Linked DNA regions of Homo sapiens: region 2 is linked to region 1. Evidence: fine-mapped expression QTL. A gene starts in region 1. The other region holds a variant in brackets. All regions are shown on one strand. Distances are from middle to middle. Region 1 holds the start of SIRT1 (sirtuin 1). Region 2 has its middle 13 kb from the start of DNAJC12.

What was found.
Region 2: its variant is fine-mapped to the expression of SIRT1 in whole blood (INTERVAL, PIP above 0.99).

What each region holds. Positions count from the first base shown.
Region 1 is chr10:67,880,957-67,888,956 of GRCh38, reverse strand. It overlaps SIRT1 (sirtuin 1), which reads right to left and starts at 4,301. Exons shown (of 9, transcript NM_012238.5): 1 at 3,806-4,301; 2 at 1,424-1,540; 3 at 1-75. The coding sequence starts at 4,235. RefSeq lists silencers at 3,596-3,715, 3,512-3,806, 4,241-4,425, 3,926-4,465, promoters at 4,233-4,408, 4,235-4,446, 4,234-5,265, 4,236-6,621 and enhancers at 4,546-4,705, 4,726-4,785.
Region 2 is chr10:67,847,024-67,855,023 of GRCh38, reverse strand. No RefSeq gene overlaps it. Among named protein-coding and RNA genes, the nearest start is that of DNAJC12, 13 kb to the right of the region's middle. RefSeq lists a silencer at 1,199-1,493 and enhancers at 5,488-5,547, 5,578-5,627. The variant A/G (reference allele first, on the strand shown) is at 4,362.

The DNA.
Region 1 (8,000 bases):
CCGGCAATAAATCTTTAAGAATTGTTCGAGGATCTGTGCCAATCATAAGATGTTGCTGAACAAAAGTATATGGACCTACAATAAGGGGGAAAAGGCTTAAAGTCAACTTATCAAGTAATTCAAAATCTCATTTATTTTCTGAAGTAATGAGTTAGCATTCTGTGAGGGTTTTTTGCAAAGTAAGAAAATGCAATTTAATGGTATTTCATTCTCGGTACACTCAGAATTAATGCTATATCCCAATGAGATTAGGAAGATCTAATGAAGAGTTGGGAAGACCCCCTTCAGCTGTAAGTATATATTTCAAGAGTCTAATTAATTAACAACCAGAATTAAGTTCTTATGGTTAATATCTAGAAACACACACCATAATACCAAAAGTATTTACAAAAGGGTTCTACGACATAGAAAAATCGTACCAGTCCTAAAAGCCTGTACTACTTATCATTAAAACCACACAGGAAAAAGAAATGAAAATCTATACATAACTGCCATCTTAATTTTTTTCCGGTAATTTTTCAATTTGATCTTAACCCATCTTCCAAGATAATACATACAATGTTGATGTTCTGAGAACTAATCATTTTCTTTTACCCTGAGATTGCTCAAACCAGCTCCCTAGGCTTGAGAAAACAAAAATAAATAAATAAATAAATTACAGACACCAAAGAGAAACTGATCTTCACTATGTTTAAATAATCAAGCCATTTGTAAGAGTGAGAACACAAAAAGATCCACTTTCAAGATGGTTATACCTTTGGTATAAAAAACTGATAATGCTTTCTACATCGAAATACTTTCCCATTTCATTCACATATTTATTAAATATTTATTGAGCACAAACTATGTGCCAGGCACTTTTTTAGGCACTGAAAAGACAGGAGTATACAAGTCAGTCAAAAATTCCTGCTCCCGTAGAACTTATATTCTAGACCAGGAAACAACACAATTTAAAAAGTAAGATACAGAGCTTTTCAAGAAGTGGTAAGTGTACAATAAAGTGAAAAAACAAGGAATATGAAGTGAGGGAGGAAGATATTCTAACCGGATGAAGAACACTACACAAAAAGGGGACAAGTGAGGTGGGGCAAGGTGGCACATGCCTGTAATCCCAGCACTTTGGGAGGCCCAGGCGGACGGATCACCTGAGGTCGGGAGTTCAAGACCAGCCTGACCAACATGGAGAAACCCCGTCTCTACTAAAAATTCAAAATTAGCCGGGCGTAGTGGCATATGCATGTAATCCCAGCTGCTGGGGAGGCTGAGGCAGGAGAATCGCTTGAACCTGGAAGGCGGAGGGTACGGTGAGCCGAGATCGCGCCATTGCACTCCAGCCTCCGCAACAAGAGCGAAACTCTGTCTCAAAACAAACAAACCAAAAACCGTACATTTACTCTCTAAAATTAACAGCTCTGAGCCATACCTATCCGTGGCCTTGGAGTCCAGTCACTAGAGCTTGCATGTGAGGCTCTATCCTCCTCATCACTTTCACAGGAATGAAAACCATTAGTGATAATTTCATCACCGAACAGAAGGTTATCTGCAAAAGAAACCAAGTCAGTCAAGGCTATCAAAACAACATGCACCTAAAATGTATGAACGGTTATAGAGCAATCATTTTCATCGAGTACAGCATTTAACATTTACACGGCGTGTGTAAAGCATGCCTATGGGGTCAGCTTGCACTGTTCATTGGAACAGTTTCTTCATCTTTAGGAATTCTGCTCACTCAGTTTCAGCCAAAATCTAAAAATAAATTAAGTCTACTTAAAAAACAGAAAAGATAGCCGGGAGCGGTGGCTCACGCCTCTAATTCCAGAGCTTTGGGAGGCCGAGGCAGGCGGATCACCTGAGGTTGAGAATTCGAGACCAGCCTGACCAACATGGAGAAATCTCGTCTCTACTAATAATACAAAAATTAGCCGGGCATGGTGGCGCATGCCTGTAATCCCAACTACTCAGGAGGCTGAGGCACGAGAATGGCTTGAACCCGGGAAGCGGAGGTTGCGGTGAGCCGAGATCACGCCATTGCACTCCAGCTTGGGTAACAAGAGCGAAACTCCACCTTTTAAAAAAAAAGAAAAGGAAAAAAAAAAAGAAAAGATAATAATCTAGCTAGAATGTATCATACAATCACAAACAATAGCGTTCGTGAAACGTGTAATAAATGGACATTTACATAAAAACGTCATTCAAATATAACCTTGGCAATGCGCACGTTAAACTTACACAATACTACAAGTACCTCTGCATTGTTTCCTCTATTAAATAAACAGTATTAATAACACAATTATTATTAGGTAAATAATAAATTAGTACTCAACTGTGTTGCTTGAAATCAGGGTCTCTTTACTAAATCAGTCCCTAAAAACACATATTACTTTTTTTTTTTTTTTTTTTTGAGACGGGGTCTCACTCTGTTGCCCACCCTGGAGTGCAGTGGCAGGATCACAGCTCACTGCAACCTCGAACTCTAGTACCTGGGACTAAAGGTGTGCGACACCACGTCCCGCTTTTTTTACTTTTAGTAGAGAGGAGGTCTCGCTATGTTGCCCAGGCTGGCCTGAAACTCCTAGGCTCAAGAGATCCTCCCGCTTTGGCCTCCCAAAGTGCTAGGATTACACGAAAGAGCCACCGCGCCCGGCCTGACCCAAATATTGATAAAGATGAACACCTATCAAGGATAGAAACTCCTCAGATCAAAAATAAGAAACCTGACCGGGCGCGGTGGCTCACGCCTGTAATCCCAGCACTTTGGGCGGCCGAGGCGGACGGATCACGAAGTCAAGAAATCAAGACCATCCTGGCCAACATGGTGAAACCCCGTCTCTGCTAAAAACACAAAAATTAGCTGGGCGTGGTGGCGGGTGTCTGTAGTCCCAGCTACTCGGCAGGCTGAAGGAGAATCGGTTGAACGCGGGAGGCGGAGGTTGCACTGAGCCGAGATCGCGCCACTGCACTCCAGCCTAGCGACAGAGCGAGACTCCGTCTCAAAAAAAAAAAAAAAAAAAAAAAGAAACCTTCAAGAACATGACAACTGCAACATATCTGCTTCATTATGCTAGAAGTGTTAAGTTTGTGTCTCAATACTACATACATACAAAAAAAGCATGTTTAGCCCAAACACCATTACCGCACAAGAGCAAGATTAGAATAAAAGTAATATGAACAGCTCTAAAAGTACTCTCTCTCCCATACCCACTCCTAACTGCATTACAGAATGGTAATGTCTTCAGGAACAGCCACGTTCTTTAAATTTTGCAAGCTGTGACTATAGAAACAGCTTTCCTCTTTCAAAAATTGTAATTTCAGTCATAAAAATATAGACCAAAAAAAGCAAACTGCACAGGTGTCAAGTTTGCAAAAAGCAATTGAAAACGCAGACCAACGGGACAGCCAAAAAGTTGCAGACTTAAGTGTGCTGGGGGGTAGAGGAGAAAAGCAATGAAAATAAAAAATAAAGAAAAAGAAAAAAAAAGCTCTAACAAAAGCAATATGCTAAAAGAGTAAGAGGGGGAGAGAAACTTATTTTAAAGCGACTGCGAGAGTCTCCCGACCTGGCTGCTGCGGAAAGAACAAGGCCGCCCAGGCGGGCCACGGACGGAGGAAAAGAGCGAATCCACTGGCAGCTCGCGCAGTAGGAACCGCAGCCCCGGAGGAGCGCGGCTGAACGGAGGGCCGGGGTGGGGAGGGGAACGCCGCGGAGCCTGCCCCGAGCCCCCAGCCGCCCTCAACCTCAGGCCAGTAGGAGCCCGGGGAGAGGGAGGAGGAGATGCGCAGTTCCGGCCGCCCGCACCCTGCGCACCTCGGTACCCAATCGCCGCCGCCGCCGCCTCTTCCTCCTCCTCGCCCTCGTCGTCGTCGTCTTCGTCGTACAAGTTGTCGGCCAGCGGTGGCTCCCGAGATGGGCCCTGCAGGCCCGGCCCATTGTCTCCTTCCCCAGCCGCCGCAGTCGCCTGGGCCTCTTGCTCCCCGCCTGCCGCCGCCGCCTCTGCCTCCGCCTCCCGCCACAGCGCCGCCGCCGCCGCACCCGGGCAGCCCCTGGCCGCCGCCGGCACCTCACGCTCTGGGGCCGCCCCACCGGGCTCGCCCGGGCTCCGCTCGAGGCCGGGACCATCTCTCCGCGGCCTCTTGCGGAGCGGCTCCCCGGCGGGGGACGACGCGGCCTCCCTGTCGGCCCCCGCCGCCGAGGGGGAGCCGCCGGGCTGAAGGGCGAGGGCCGCCTCGTCCGCCATCTTCCAACTGCCTCTCTGGCCCTCCTCCCTCGCCTCCTCTGCTCCCGCTCGACGCGCGGCACTGGCGCCCCCGCGGCTCCGGCTGCGGGAGATTTAAACCCCATCACGTGACCCGCCCCATCGCCGCCCCCGCCCTCTCGGCGCTCCCGCCACCCACGCGGGCCAGACCACAACACTACGGGTCACGTGGCGGGCGGAGGCTGTTGCGTCTACCGCTCCGCCTGGGCTGGAAGCGCACTCGGCCCCGGCGGCCGGCGGCCCTTCCTCTTTGTGGCGAGCGTGTAGTGCAGCCAAATTCGCCCCTCGGCCGCTTTCTCAACTTCTCTTTCAAACTGACCTCAAATCACTACCGCCGGAACAGCTCAAGTTTTGGTCCGCCCTGGGAATTTCCACGTCTTCCTGAAGTGTACACCTGGCCTGCCTTAGCCTTGTCTATATTTAGCTAAGGGTTAAAACACAGCTGAAGCTGGCTAAGACTTAGCTCCCTGAAATACGTTGGATAGTCGTTCTGTTTTGTTAATAAGTAGGAAGAGAGGCAAAAGGAGGCGGCTCCTTTCCCACTCTCCTCACACCGTTCTGACAGCTCCTCTTTTGCTCCTTTTTCTGCTCCTTGCTTTTCTCCTTAGTCGGTTGCTTTTTTCCCCTCTCTCCCATCACTTGTAGGGTGGTATACATTGTAAAATCCTTGAAGGCATATGTCCTCCTGGGAAGACCTTTGACGTGGAGGTTTGGAGATCAGCCGATCTACTTTCTGGCCCCAGCTTGGCTTCAAACGTGTGTGAATTCCCTCCTCCGGGCCTCAGTTTTCTCACGTGCAGAATGGGTTTGTTGGGTCAGTATGAGAGCATGGGAAGGAAATGACTTGGCCTCCATGCACATCTGCCCTTGGTTAAAATTTGGAGTCCTTCCTTTCTAGCGTGAGCTATCTAGCCGTTTCTAAACTTAATTTTTCTCATGTCTTAAATGGTAATAAGTATTTTAAAACGTCATAGATTTAAATGAGATAACCAGATGTAAAACGAGGGGTACCTAGTAGTTCAAAAGGCTTAGTGGAAAGCCCTTCCACTTTCCTCTCTCCCTGAAATTCTGGCACACTGTGACTCCATATCTAATCTTAACTAAGGACCCATATAACCCATGGTAGATCTAGAGCCAGTGTTTGTTATGGCATCTGCCTGGAGCACAGCGTTTCTATCTGTTTAAAGGACCTCTACGAGTTTATGGTACACTGTCCCTTAAGCCTAGTATGGGTTCTGGCCATACTGCATCAATTACCTGCGTGACTTTAGGCAACCAACTTAAAGCTGTTTCTTCATCCTTAAAATAAAAAATAAAAAGCTGGAAATATATCGCTAAGGTCCTATCTACATCCAAAAGTCTTATTTCATCTGGTCACCACTATTCATTTCTGAAAGTAATCATCTCCAGTCCTAGAAGCCTTAAAACCATCTTTGGTTGCGTGGGGGTCAAGGGGAGGGAGAGCATTAGGACAAATAGCTAATGCATGCGGGACTTAAAACCTGGCTGGGCGCGGTGGCTGCTGCCTGTAATCCCAGCACTTTGGGAGGCCGAGGCGGACAGATCACCTGAAGTCGGAAGTTCGAGACCAGCCTGACCAACATGGAGAAACCCCGTCTCTACTAAAAATACAAAATTAGCCGGGCGTGGTGGCACATGCCTGTAATCCCAGCTACTCAGAAGGCTGAGGCAGGAGAATCGCTTGAACCCAGCAGGCAGAGGTTGCGGTGAGCCGAGATCGCACCATTGCACACCAGCCTGGGCAGCAAGAGCGAAACTCCGTCTCAAAAAAAAATATAAATAAAACCTAGATGAGGGGTTGATTGGTGCAGCAAACCACCATGGCTCACCTATAAGTATGTAACAAACCTACACATTCTGCACCTGTATCCTGGAACTTAAATTAAAAAAAAAATCTTTGAAGCGTTCCTTCATACCAATCCCTCTGAAATCCATCTGACCAATCAATGACCAAATCCTGTTGTCCTTCCTTTCTTGCTACACTCCTCCCAATTCCTGACTAGGCACCACACTCCTAGTGGTTGACATACTTGGTCCTCCCCACTTTCTGTCTTACACTACAAAATATTTCATAAATTGACTCTCAGCTACGTTGGTGGAATGCAATATATGAAATGTTGAGAGTCAGTATCCCAATAAAACAGAAACAAAATTCCCAGCTTTTTTGAGAAAAAGATGTCTGTAAGCTTATGAGCATCCTGTTGTTCATTAATTCATTTATATTTATAGTATATTATTGACACGTGAAGTTTATGAACTACAAGAAATGCTATGTGATCAATATTATTGTTAGTATGCTGAGAGGTCAGAGATGCAGTATGCTTTTCAGGTAGGATAAATGAGAAACAGAAATTGTATTACAACAAACACAAAAACAAAAAATCCCAATTAGACTTCTGGTCTACCACTGGTTAAGAACTAACATTAAGGCTAGGCGCTGTGGCTCACGCCTATAAATCCCAGCACTTTGGGAGGCCAAGGCGGGCGGATCACCTGATGTCAGGAGTTCGAGACCAGCCTGACCAGTATGATGTAACCCCGTCTCCACTAAAAATACAAAAATTAGCCCAGAGTGGTGGCATGCGCCTGTAATCCCAGCTACTCGGGAGGCTGAGACGGGAGAATCGCTTGAACTCAGGAGGTGGAGGTTGCAGTGACCTGAGACAGTGCCATTGCACTCCAGCCTGGGCAACAAGAGTGAAACTCTGTCTCAAAAAAAAAAAAAAAAAAAAAAGAACATTAATATTCTGGCTGACTTAGTAGTTCTATTCTCCTAAGTTAATAAATTGGCCTGCCAAGCACGGTGGCTGACGCCTGTAATCCCAGCACTTTGGGAGGTCGAGGCGGGTGGATCACGAGGTCAGGAGATCAAGACCATCCTGGCTAACACGGTGAAACCCCGTGTCTACTAAAAATACAAAAAATTAGCCGGGTGTGGTGGCGGGCGCCTGTAGTCCCAGCTACTCGGGAGGTTGAGGCAGGAGAATGGCGTGAACCCAGGAGGCGGAGCTTGCAGTGAGCCGGGATCGCGCCACTGCACTCTGGCCTGGGCGACAGAGTGAGACTCCATCGCAAAAAAAATAAAAATAAGAATAAATAAAAAATGAATAAATAAAAAAATAAATTGGCCTAATAGCTCTGATATCAGTCTCATGTGACTACAATTAGTAAGGGAGTTAGTATCAACTCTTTTGTACTAATAAAATGTTATTGTCAAAACTGAAAAACACAAATGGAAATCCCTACTTCACACAATATACGAAAATAAATTCCAGCCAGGCGCGGTGGCTCACTCCTGTAATCCCAGCACTTTGGGAGGCTGAGGGGGGGCAGATCACCTGAAGTCGGGAGTTCAAGACCAGCCTGGCCAACATGGACAAACTACTACTGACTCTACTAAAAAATAAATTAGCCAGGTGTGGTGGCACATTCCTGTAATCCCAACTACTTGGGAGGCTGAGGGAGGAGAATTGCTTGAACCTGGGAGGCGGAGATTGCAGTGAGCCGAGATTGCACCATTGCACTCCAGCCAGGGCAACAAGAGCAAAACTTCATCTCAAAAATATAAAAAATTAAAAATTCCAGATGGATTGAAGATCTAAATGAAAAAATACAAAAATAAAAATATGACATTTTAGAATATTTATAACTTTGGATCAAGAAAGAACTTTTTAGCAAGGCAGGAGCCATTTTTTAAATGATAAAAATATTTGACAATATAAAAAT
Region 2 (8,000 bases), 34 kb after region 1:
CTCCCTGATGAGGATAATAATAGCTGATATTTATGAAGCAGTTATTGGGTACCAGATACCATAGTAATTCATGCTATCTTGTTCAATCCTCAAACGAACCCTGTGAGGGATGTGCTATTTTCATCCCCCCTGTACAGATGAAGAGGGGCAATCTGAGGCACAGGACCATTCAGTGGGATCCCACAGCTGGTAAGTGGTAGCTGATCAAGAAGAAAGGAAAAAGCCACCCTTTCCTCCCTGCTTGCTCAGCTACCACTTACTAGCTGTGGGATCCCACCTAATGGCCCTGAATCCCTGTCTGACTGTAGACCACATGCATTTAAGCAGCAAGCTGTATTTGAATGTGCTGTTTCTATTTGGATACTGAATATATATTTTAATAAGTGTAAATCATGGGTCCTCATAAACCCAAATGTCTATAGGGGCCAGAACGTGAGTCCAGAGAACTTTATATATATATATGTGTGTGTGTGTGTGTGTGTGTGTGTGTGTGTGTGTGTGTGTATATGTATATATGTGTATATATGTATATATGTATATATATGTGTATATATGTATATATATGTGTATATGTGTATATATGTATATATGTGTATATATGTATATATGTGTGTATATATATTTTATGTATGTGTGTGTGTATATATATGTATTATATATGTGTGTGTGTGTGTGTGTGTGTGTATATATATATATATATATATATATTTTTTTTTTTTTGAGTCAGGGTTTCATTCTGCTACCCAGGCTGGAGTGCAGTGGTGAGATCATGGCTCACTGCAGCCTCGACTTCTTGGGCTCAAGTGATCCTCCCACCTCAGCCTCTTGAGTAGCTGGGACTACATATGTGTGCAACTATGCCTGGCTAATTTTTTTTTTTGAGATGGAGTCTCGCTCTGTTGGTCTGCCTCGTGGGTTCACGCCATTCTCCTGCCTCAGCCTCCCGAGTAGCTGGGACTACAGGCGCCCGCCACCACGCCCGGCTAATTTTTTGTATTTTTAGTAGAGATGGGGTTTCACTGTGTTAGGCAGGATGGTCTCGATCTCCTGACCTCGTGATCCACCCGCCTCGGCCTCCCAAAGTGCTGGGATTGCAGGCGTAAGCCACCGTGCCCGGCCACATTGGATTCTTTTCTATATTTTGAGTTTTTACTATGTGAATGTATTTTTCAAAAAAACATTTTAATGATCATAGAAAACTACTTCCAGAAGTTGAGGCCAATAACTTACATCTGTGGTCTGATAGGGTGTGCTATAACATCCTCACTGGAAGGAGGACACTCCATGTTCTTATCACAGCAAAAACATATGCCACTCACATATGTTTGGAATCGTTTCAAAGCTACATAACTCTTGCTGAAGTTAAATAGATACGTGACAATGCCAGAGTGACAGTGCTCTCCTGCAGACCAATTAAAAGGGAGTCTCAGGGCATGGGTATAGGTTGTTTTGTTTTGTTTTGTTGAGACAGAGTCTCACAGTGTCACCCAGGCTGGAGTGCAGTGGTGCAATCACAGCTCACTGCAGCCTTCACCTCCTAGGCTCAAGCAATCCTCCCATTGCTCCTGAGTAGCTGGGCCTACAGATGCATGCCACCAGGCTAATTTTTTTAAGAAATTTTTTTGTAGAGACAGGGTCTCATTATGTTGCTCAGGCTGGGTCTCAAACCCCTGGGCTCAAGAGATCCTCCCATCTCTGCCTCCCAAAATGCTGGGATTACAGACGTGGGCCACTGTACCCAGTCAGCATGGTTTTTTTGTTTTTGTTTTTGTTTTTTTTTTGGCTCCCCTCAATGATTCTAATGTGCAGCAAGGTGTCACGTAGACCAAGGATGTTAATCTATAGGAAATATTAATGGAATAAAAACAAGAACTTGTAATACATACTTTCTATGCCCTAGGCCTTGTCCTCTGTGGTAAATTCAGAGAATCCATTTGATTCAGTGATAGAGTCACAAATGCCATACGATTCTGTGATAGCCCAAGCTTGCCAAATGAATGTCTGCCAAAAGGAAGTGAAATAAATATAGAATAATATTCATGAGGAGATTGATGGCTCAGCAAAAGTTCCTTGAGAACATGGTATATGCCTAGTGCTGCAGGAGGTGTAAAAGGAATCTATTTTAGTGGTTCTTCCCATAAGGAACTTAGATTGCAATTAAAGAGATAAGACGGGGGCCGGGCGCCATGGCTCACGCCTGTACTAGGGCCATCTAGTCCCTCCCCCTGAAGGCAACTACTTTATGGGTTGCTTGTGAATCCTTCCAGAGACATTATTATCGTAAGTTAAATAGTTCTTTTTTATTTTTTGGCTTCAGATAGGAATTTTCTTTTTTTTCTTTTTTTTTTTTTGTTTTGAGACGGAGTCTCGCTCTGTCACCCAGGCTGGAGTGCAGTGGTGTGATCTTGGCTCACTGCAAGCTCCGCCTCCTGGGTTCACGCCATTCTCCTGCCTCAGCCTCCCGAGTAGCTGGGACTACAGGTGCCCACCACCACGCCCAGCTAATTTTTTGTATGTTTAGTAGAGATGGGGTTTCACCATGTTAGCCAGGATGGTCTCGATCTCCTGACCTCGTGATCCGCCCGCCTTGGCCTCCCAAAGTGCTGGGATTACAGGCGTGAGCCACCGTGCCCAGCCCCAGATAGGAATTTTCTTTAATCACTCTCTTTTTTGACAGTTTCCTTAATATTTCCTTGATAGTAACGGAGCTAAGGTTAAAGGGAAAGACTGATTCATTGTGTTAGAGTGTAACAGGATCTGGAGGTCATCCTGTCCTTTTTTAATCCAAGTGTGGTCCTTGGATCAACATGGAGCTCACCTGGGTGCCTGCTAGAAAAGAAGAGTCTCAGACCTCACCCAGGCATCCTGAAGCAGAAGTTGCATCTTAACCAGACCTCCAGGTGATTTGTGTGGACCTTTAAGTTTGAGAATCATTGTTTTTGTCCAATCTTAACAAATCAAGGAAGCATGGTTCTGCAAGGAGCCAGTGCAGAACTGATACTCTAAATCAGGTCTTCTGACACCTCGTCTAGTGCATTTCTTTCTTTCCTTTATTTCCCTTTCCTTCCTTCCTTTCCTCCCCACCCCCCTTCTTCCTTTTTTTGAGACAGGGTCTTCCTCTGTCCCCCAGACTGGTGTGCATTGGTGGTGGAATCATAGCTCACTGCAGCCTCGAACTCTAGGGTCCAAGAGACCCTCTTGTGTCATCCTCCTGAGTAGTTAGGACTACAGGTACATGCCATCATGTCTGGCTAATTTATTGTATTTTATTTTTAGTAGAGATAACATCGCACTTTGTTGCCCAGTTTGGTCTTGAACTCCTGGCTTCATGCGATCCTCCTGCCTCCCAAAGTGTTGGGATTACAAGCATTTTCTAATATGCCACAATTCTGGCCAGATAATTTGATGTAACATTTTAAACATTTTCTTCACCAGGGACTTTGGAGTCAGACACAGCAGAGTTCAAGTCCCAGCTTTGTCACTAGCACATAATAAGAGCTCACTAATGGTGTTAAATAAAATTTATAGGCCATTGGTTTGAACTGAGCTCCTGCACTAGGCCCAATAGACAAAACCAAAATGAAGTTACTCATGCCAAACTACCATGTCACCAAAACAAAACTAAGTTGCTTATTCCACCTTCCAAGAAATCAGGAGAGAAACCCACACAGGCCAGTTTCAGCTGGCATAATAAGAAAGTCGGCTGTGCTTTAATTTTACAAGGAAAGTAACTTTGAAACGACCAATCTGCTTTTTGTTATCTCTTTCTGCTTTCTTCAGCCCCTTTTTGGCTTATAAAGCCAGCCTCCTGCCCAGATCCCAGAACACTCAATTTATTTTACAGAATGAGGTGTTATCTGATTTATTGCAAATAAAAGCCAATTAAGATCTTTAAATTTGTTGTAATTTTATCTGATGAGTGGTTATTATACGTCTATTTTTTTTTTTTTGAGAGAGTTTCGCTCTTGTTGCCCAGGCTGGAGTGCAGTGGTGCGAGCTTGGCTCACTGCAACCTCCGCCTCTCCGGTTCAAGTGATTCTCCTGCCTCAGTCTCCGGAGTAGCTGGAATTACAGGTGCCCACCATCACGCCCAGCTAATCTTTGTATTTTTAGTGGAGACGGGGTTTCACTATGTTGGTGAGGCTGGTCTTGAAACTCCTGACCTCAAATGATCCACATGCCTTGGCCTCCCAAAGTGCTGGAATTACAGGCGTGAGCCATCGTGCCCGGCCTATTATACTTCTTATTGTTACTTAAAAACAAACAAACAAACAAACTACTTTTAGAGCAGTTTAGTTTCACAGCAAAATTGAGGGGAAAGTACAGAGTTCACATACCCCATCTCCCTTCCTCCCAGAATA[A/G]CCTATCAACATCCTGCACTTACTATTCTTAAAAATGGCATTAATAGCATTCATCATCGCACCTGATTATAACTTGAAAACGCTATTTCTTTTTTCATTTTTTGAGACAGAGTCTTGCTCTGTCGCCCAGGCTGGAGGGCAGTGGTGCGATCCCGGCTCACTGCAAGCTCCGCCTCCCGGGTTCAAGCGATTTTCCTGCCTCAGCCTCCCGAGTAGCTGGGACTACAGGCCCCCGCCACCACGCCCGGCTAATTTTTTGTATTTTCAGTAGAGACGAGGTTTCACCGTGTTAGCCAGGATGGTCTCCATCTCCTGACCTCAGGTGATCCGCCCGCCTCGGCCTCCCAAAGTGCTGGGATTACAGGTGTGAGCCACCGCGCCCGGCCTGAAAACGCTATTTCAACAGCCTTTGGAGAATCATTTACGAATTTCTAGGTATTCATGTATTCTATGTCTGACTCAACAGTAACGCCTTTTGACTCATCCGGTTCTTGGACCAGGACGCTGTCTTGCTCTGTAAGCCAGGGAGAGATTTTATTAGGCTATTTTACAAATGCAGGGTCTGAAACAAAAAGGTTACGGTCCGGGCAGGCTATGTTTTCTTTCTACTGGATCTTAAGCTGGACCGGATCAGTAGATTGAGGAGCAGGCTTTAGAGAGCCCAGTGTCAATCTGGAATCTAAGCCCTTCTATCAGAGCGCAAAACTCGTGTCCAGGACCCCAGCCTTAGCGGGGAGCAGGGGCCCGTGTGTCGGGAAATAAGGACGAATGGTTGCAGGCACAGTTTCTGGAACCTGCGTTTTGTGCCTCCTTTGCTCGTATTTGGAAAAACCGCTGGGGAAAGGCGCCGATTTCATTCTGCAATACAGAACTTTGAAGCGAGGCTGGAAGGAAAAACGAGAGGCGGAAAGGGTCAGGTCAGAGTGCGACTTTCAGGGCCGCGCAGAGCCCACCTGTGGGCTGGCTAATTTTCATCCTCGCTCGGAGCTTCTGGAGCTTGTAGCCTCTTGTTTTCCAGCCTTTCTCCTTTTGATTTGAGCTTAGTTTCAGTTTACCTACTTCCAGACTAGGGCATTCGATGTAAAAATAGCACTTACGGAGGGCGGGGGGCGGAGGGGGGGACGGTGTCCCTGAGTATGAAAGTAACTGGCTTGTTTCCGGTTCCTCTGTGGCGCCGTTCTCGCGATGCTCGCGATGCCTTATGGGAGTTGTAGTCTCGGGTGAGAGACGCTTCCCGGCAGGGAGGAACAGGCCTCCAAGGCCTAGGATTGAGCATCGGACTCTCCGTGTCTTGTGTGTGTGGTTCTCTTCTCTTCTCTTGTCTTGTGTGTGTGGTTCTCTTCTCTTCTCTTCTCTTCTCTTCTCCCCTCCCCTCCCCTTCCCTGCCCTCCCCTCCCCTCCCCTCCCCTTCCCTGCCCTCCCCTGCCCTCCCCTGCCCTCCCCTTTCTTTTTTCTGACGGAGTGTCACTCTGTTGCCCAGGCTGGAGTGCAGTGGCGCGATCTCGGCTCACTGCAACCTCCGCCTGCCTGGTCAAGCAATTCTCCTGCCTCAGGCACCCGAGTAGCCGGGACTATAGGCGCCCGCCACCACACCCGGCTAATTTCTGTATTTTTAGTAGAGATGGGGTTTCACCATTCTGGCCAGGCTGGTCTGGAACTCTTGACCTCAAGTGATCCACCCGCCTTGGCCTTCCAAAGTGCTGGGATTACAGGCGTGAGCCACCGCGCCCGGCCTCCACAGAGCTTTAACTCTGTTAAAAAGTTCTACATAATTTCTACTATACGCTATATTCTTCCATACAGAAGAAAAATTATGGGATGACTACATCGACTTCACACAGTTTAAAAAAGTATAAAAGGAAATGAAAATCTTCTTTTGAGTACCTGCCCAGTTCCTCCCCTAAAAGAATACTGTTGCTTGCTTTTTTTTTTTTTTTTTGAGATGAACTTTGGCTCTTGTTGCCCAAGCTGGAATGCAATGGCGCAATCTCGGCTCACTGCAACCTCCGCCTCCCGGGTTCAAGCAATTCTCCTGCCTCAGCCTCCCTAGAAGCTGAGATTACAGGTGTGCGCCACCACTCCCAGCTAATTATTATTAGTAGTAGTAGTAGAGACGGAGTTTCACCATGTTGGCCAGGCTAGTCTCGAACTCCTGACCTCAATCAGGTGATCCACCCGCCTCAGCCTCCCAGAGTTCTGGGATTATAGGCATGAGCCACTTCGCCCGGCCTGCTGCTTGCTTTTTTTTTTTTTTGAGACGGAGTCTCGGTCTGTAATCCAGGCTGGAGTTCAGTGGTACGATCTTGGCTCACTGCACCTCCACCTCCTGGGTCCCGGTTAAAAAAATTCACCTGCCTCAGTCTCCCGAGTAGCTGGGATTACAGGAACGCACCACCATGCCACGCTAATTTTTGCTTTTTTTTTTTTTTTTTTTAAGTAGAGACGGGGATTTCACCCTGTTGGCCAGGCTGGTCTTGAACTCCTGACCTCATGATCTGCCCACCTCGGCCTTCCAAAGTGCTGGGATTATAGGCGTGAGCCACCGCTCCCAGCCTGTTGCTTGCTTTTTAAAGGCAGTTATCTTTAGAAAAAATTACAAGTGCAAATGTACATACTATTAAAAAGTACACAATAGAGATAATACTGTAATACTCTTCTCAAACCTGTTTTTTCATTTGATAGCACTCGTTAGACATCTTTCCATACTTGCACATAAAAAGCTATCTTTATTCTCTTTTCACTGGCAATACAATAGTTCATCCTACAAATAGCATAATTTATTCATCTCCTGCCCTCCTCAACTCCACCGATGAACATTTTGTTGTATATATATTTTTTCCTGTTGCAAACGACGCTGCAGTGGTCCTCTTGAACATATTTTGGTGTATATCCACAAGCTGAATTTGTAGAGACAAAATTGCCCTGTCAAGTATAGATATGCTTTATAAAAGGTGATAAATACACCAAATTGCCAAATTGTACCAAATTACACTCTCATCCAACAATGTATGGAAATGCTTTCTTCGTCATTTCTGTTTTCTGGCATGGGTATTATCAAACCTTTGCTAATCTGAGAGGTGAACAACTTTATCCTCTTTGGATTGATTTGCAGTTTCATAATTATTAGTGATGTTGCACTACTATTTGTATGTTTATTGGTCGTTTGTATTTCTGAAAGTAGTTGTATTTTTGGCTTAATTTTCTTTCTTTCTTTCTTTTTTTTTTTTTTTTTTTCTAGACGGAGTCTCGCTCTGTCGCCCAGGCTGGAGTGCAGTGGCGTGATCTCCGCTCACTGCAAGCTCCGCCTCCCAGGTTCACACCATTCTCCTGCCTCAGCCTCCCGAGTAGCTGGTACTACAGGCGCCTGCCACCACCCCCGGCTAATTTTGTTTTTTTTTGTATTTTTAGTAGAGACGGGGTTTCACCGTGTTAGCCAAGATGGTCTCCATCTCCTGACCTGGTGATCCGCCTGCCTCGGCCTCCTAAAAGTGCTGGGATTACAGGCGTGAGCCACCAAGCCCGGCATTTTTGGCTTAATTTTCTGTTGTGTTGTTAAGCTTTTTAAAATTGATTTGTCTGCACTTGTATATTAAGGAAGTTAGCCTTTTGTCTGTTATGAGAATTATGAAATTTTTTTCT